Linked DNA regions of Homo sapiens: region 2 is linked to region 1. A link means that fine-mapping ties the variant in region 1 to the expression of a gene that starts in the linked region. Tissue or cell type: cerebellum. Region 1 holds a variant in brackets; the other region holds the start of a gene. All regions are shown on one strand. Distances are between the middles of the regions.

Region 1 (2,756 bases):
GACCTGCCTGGAACAGCAACACCTGCTGTTCACCTCCACCCAGGCTGCGGAAACGACCTACTCTCAGCAACTCGAATCACGGCTGCCATTTATTTAGTGCCTATGACATACGTGGTGCTTCACAGGCAAGAGCCTACCTCTATCTTTGCATAAAGAGGAACTTCCAGGTCTTCTTTATAGCTCAGGAGACAGGACAAAATAACTCGCCCAAAAACGTCACCCACAGGGTGAGAGCAGGGCTGGAGCTGCAACCTGGGCCGGATGCAAAGCCGGTGCTTGGAACCCCTGCACCATCCTATCCCCCTGCCCTGGTCAGCCAGGACCGTGGGAAGAGGGTCTCTAAGCCCATCTGAGGTAGTCACTACCACCTGCCTCCTGGAGGCGCATCAGCCAACATTCACAAACCCCCCCACCCCCGCCTGCTTCTGATTTAACCCTGCCACCCCCAGGGAGCCAGCGAGCTGGCTGCTTTGCAGACAGAGAAACTGAGGCTCAGAGAGGTTGAATAGCTTGTCCAGGGTCACACAGGGCCAAGGAGTGGCACAGCTGTGGGTGAAAAGCCAGGTTCTGGAGCCTCCACCCAGCACCCGTCCCTGCTGCACCACACACACCTCGCTGCCTTACTCCAAGGTGTCCACTCAAAGTATGTGAAAATCCAATCACGAAATCCCTCACACACTGGACACACACAAGCCTGTCTGTCACCTTGATTCAGAGAAGAGAAACCTACAACAGACAAACAGGGCGATTCCTCCTGCTGGGAACCCTTCTCCCCATCGCCTGTCAGACCTCCCCTCCGGAAGGAAGGGAACTTTTCCCAACTCCCCACGACCACAGGGAAACTTCTCCCCGCTGCCTGCCCTCCCTCCCTCCCTCTGTGCTGGGACAGTTTGTCCTCCCAGCAGAGGTGAGGCGGCTGGAGCAGCCCCTGCCCGGCACCCACCTTCTCCGGAGCAAGCGGCATGGGCACTTCAGTCGCTCCCTGGTACTGCGGGGCAGCCTGATGTCCCCACCGTCCCCACCGTCCCCACCCCTCCTCGGAGCCCAGAAGCCAGAGCTGGAGTGGCGGCGGGAACAGCTCATCTTTCAAGGGCTGGGTA[G/A]TGATGTCATCAGCCTCCTGGGCACTTCCCCCTCCGCCTCCAGCTGAGCTCTGCACTCCTGCCCAGCTGGAGCCAGGCTGGCTGTGGGGCCGGGAAGGCTGCGGCCACCTTCGCTCTCCGCTCTGCCACCCTCTGAGCCCTGGGGGCCAGGGAGGCTCTTGGAAGATTTCCATGTTTGCGTAGCCCGGCTGCCCGTTGGAGTCGTGGGACGGCAAAAACGTCCCTCCCGGCTGACCACAAAGTGGCCTGGGAAGCCCCATGTGAATAAATTTGCCTCGCGTAACATTTATTTCTTATCATTATTTATCTTCTTGAGGTGGTTATTTTGTGTCTGAGTTTTGGATGTAAACAGTGGGCGTTTACGCGGAAGGTGTAAACAGAGGGTGGCCAGGTGGGCAGGCGGAGTCCTGGGATTTCTTTGTATGCCACGTACGGCTCCCAAGGGCGACAGTGGCAGAAGCTGTCCTGTTTCCTGGGTACGGGTGTTTGCGCTCCCCTGAGACACGCGGCCGTTTCTTCGGAGATGTATGGCGGAGGTTTCTCCCATGTCAAGGCTCAGGCTGGCTTTCTCAGTTTTGCTCAAAGACTTACTAACTATCTGCAGCACTTTACACTCCCAGGGCTGAGACGGTAGGAGCTGGAAAGGGCAGGGACTTTCAAAACATTTTTTTTTGAAGCCTTAAAACCCTTCCTTCAGAAGAGAACAGATAAGAGTGGGCCCAGTGGATCTGGGGAAGAGACAGGAGGGCCAGAGGACGTCCCCCCAGCCCATCAGCTCCTCTTCCCTGTGACTTGATTCATAACAAGCCTACAAACCAGCAATCAAGCCTGATCCCATCATCATGGAGACAGGGAAACAGAGTCTCAGATCAGTTTATGGGTGGCCTGGGCGCTAGCCCTGGCTTGGCTGTGAACTGGCTGTAGGCTCTTGAGTGAAGGCCCTCCCTGGCCTGGCTGTGTGGTTGACTCATCTGTGCACCTGGCTGTTCAACCACATTGGGGCTCCTTAATCTGGAGTTTCCTGACTTGCCAGTTGGGGACAGAGGTCTATGGACAGGCTGCCCAGAGTCCACAAGCCCTCTGAAAAGGTGTGTCTGTGCTTTATCCCCTATGGAGCCTCATCTATAGCTTTCACTAAAATATTGAAGAGCTCTGAGATCCACAACATATTGAGACCTGCATGAGCGTCCAGAGACCCTCTGAAGTCTCTTCCAACTTAGATATTGTAGAGCTCTGTATCTATGAGTTGAAAATCCTCAAGGATCTGAATCCAATGTTGATGCTTCTGTAAATATCATTGACAGAAATCTCTAAAAGACATCTGTCCATCTGCACACATCTCCATCCATCTCTGTCATATAGTTTTTTAAAAAGGCTACTTTAAACCAGTTTTGAGGTCCTGGCTGGAGGCCAGCCAGTTCATGAGCAGCTGATTAAGTTCACATTCTGGCCCTTTCTCTTACCAGGTTCTCACACTCTGGGCCACTAGCCACCTGCCCTGATGGCCTTGGAGCCAGGTACCAAACAATAATGGACAGCTCCCATCATCTGGAACTCACAAACTTATTTAAGTTAGCCAATCCATAGGGAGCCAAGGAAACCTCGTTAACACCACCCTACGTGCCACACATAGCTGCCGCCTATAGCTCCAGCTTG
Region 2 (2,500 bases), 52 kb before region 1:
ATCTCCAGAACTGTAAGATAATAACTTGCATCGTTTTAAGCCACTCACTTTGTGATAATTAATTATAGCAGCCTTAGGAAACCAGCACGGGGGTGAGGCTGCACCCTGCCCAGGAAGCCAGAGACGACCAGCTACGCAGGGACTTTAGCTCGAACCTGATTAGGTCAGTGGACACCGCCCCCATCCCCAGGACGGGGAGGTGGCTGGGGCCACTGCAGCCACAGCATGTGTCTGCTCACATGGGGCTTATTTTTAAAGGGATTGTCCTCACCTGCTGCTGTCTGTGTTTATAAAGTTGGCTAGAGAGGAGAAATCTTCCTTTGCCAGTTTTCAGCTTTAGCTCTGATATTTGCCTGGAACATAGTAGGTGCTCAATAAACAATATCTCTGGATATTGTTAGTAATATGTGACCCTATTTGAAGAACTCAGAAGGGGCACTGGGCAAGTCTACAAGAGATGGCAATTCTGTAATTCCTGTGTGGTATTTTCTGAATTCTGCACATTTTAACCTAGGCTATGAGACAGTGTGACTTTCTTCAACAAATTAGTTAATTCTTCAAATTAACTCCAATTTCAACAGCATGGTGATGTTAAAGGCATTGGAAATTCAGCCACAGATGTTAAAGACCATCAGCACGGTCACATAGTAAGATGCTACTTTCAAGCCACGAATAACCCAACCAGTTATTGGTCTTATGAAATCTTGTAAGCCATCCCAGAGAGACTAATTTAATTTTTATGATTCAGAATTTGCAGGCTGTAACTGGTCAGTCCATGCGAACTCTGGTGGCTGCATTCAGCCCTGACATGTTTCACCTGACTTTGATATAAGGAGCTACTGGAACCTTCCTACGAGTTCTAAAACCTTTCCCTCCTCCTCCTGTTCTGGAAAAGCAATTAAGACCCAAACTAGGCATGAAATAAAAGTCTCTTAAATTGATTTAGAATTATTTTTAAAAAGTACCCTCACAGAAGTGGAAAATTTTGCCAATAGGTAGGTGTAAAAGGAAGTTTTTTGTTTTTCTAAGAGACACAGATTTCCTCTCATATTGTACTCTCATAAAAGAAAAAAAAAAGGTGGTCATTTACTTACTCAGGCAGAAAATGAAGGCGTTCACAACTGTAGTTGGGTTTTCTGATAGTGAGAGCTGCTTTTGGAGGAGTTTTCTCTTCTGGGAAGTGCTGTGGAGATGTGGTTGCTTTAAATTATATAACCTCCGCTCCAGTGATGTCATTGTGGGGATTGCCGCAAAAGTGAGTCTTTCGGGACTCACTCCAAGTGGATTTGGAAGGAAAAATCCACTCTCATTTCACTTTGCACTTTAGGGATGATAAGAGATTATTCAGCTACCATCTCCCCCTTTACTTTGGTACCATCTGCAGAGGTCTGCAATCCTGCCCAAGACCTGTATGTTGGCAAACACGCCCTAAAAACATGTTTTGACATCGCCAACTTGCCCCAAGGCTCGCAAAGTGTCAGTGAACATTGAGGGATGGCTTTTGGCCCCTTCACTATTGGCTTCTGAATGTCTGGGGCTCTGCAGCAGCTTTTGTGGGAGCCACTTCGAATGGCCTCTTTTGAATTTTGGTCATGAAAGATACATCGCCAAGAATCCATCAGAGTGGACCCATCACACAAACAGAGAGCTAGGAAAACGTTTGACTCATGCAATGTTCAGAGTTGAGTAAGACCAGATACATTTTTTCCTAATCCTCCTTGGCGTCTCTCAAATTATGTCTGCATGGGTCAAGTTGAACTACTCAAGACCTCATGTTTCAGACAGTAAGATATTTTTGGCTTTGAGAATCAGGTGACAAGATTCTCCAACTGAAGGCCCCTTACCTGTCAACTTACAAATTAAGATCTTTCCAGGCCACCCCCTACACGTAGGAGAACTCATTCATGCCAGAATTCAGGACTTCGAGTCTGACTTCTGGAAAGGTGACCCTCCAAATGTTTGGAGCAGAAGGTGTCACCTCTGTCTTTAGAATCTTGCCTTTTGCTTGTGTTCCCTTTTTCTGCTAGTGACATCTCAGCGGGAGCCAACTGCACTTCAAGTTTTCCTGCTGTCTTCTCCTGTTGCTGAAGACCTTAAAACTGTGGAAGTAGGTGGAACAAATAGCATTCTGAGGCTCAGTAGCGGATGTACATTTCAGGGAAGAAGCTGGAATTTGCCTTAGAGGATAGGATGGTCCCCTCCTATCAGGAGAGACCTCCTGGGTGGGATTTTTAATAAAAAAAAATTGTCAACAGGCAAGCATCTTCCATTACTCCCGGGATAGATCTGAACCGGAGGAAGGCTCCAAATCTTAGCCTTTCCTGTTACTTAGTAATGTAGGCGGGGGTCTCTCCAGCCCGTGGCTGGCTTATTCTCCCTTCAGTATGAGTTTAGACTATACTGTTTCTGAGAAGCGTTTGTTCTTAGGAGATGTCTCCCTGTTTATTCACCCAGGAGTGCGTATAAGGCCAGCTCTGCCACAAAGAGCACGTGCAGGTCT

The links. PIP is the estimated chance that this variant, and not a neighbour inherited with it, causes the effect.
Region 2: it holds the start of BDKRB1, and the variant in region 1 is fine-mapped to the expression of BDKRB1 in cerebellum (GTEx, PIP above 0.99).

Annotation. Positions count from the first base shown.
Region 1 is chr14:96,203,147-96,205,902 of GRCh38, reverse strand. It overlaps BDKRB2 (bradykinin receptor B2), which reads right to left and starts at 1,064. Exons shown (of 3, transcript NM_001379692.1): 1 at 944-1,064. RefSeq lists an enhancer at 728-1,603. The variant G/A (reference allele first, on the strand shown) is at 1,101.
Region 2 is chr14:96,254,895-96,257,394 of GRCh38, reverse strand. It overlaps BDKRB1 (bradykinin receptor B1), which reads right to left and starts at 1,185. Exons shown (of 3, transcript NM_000710.4): 1 at 1,095-1,185.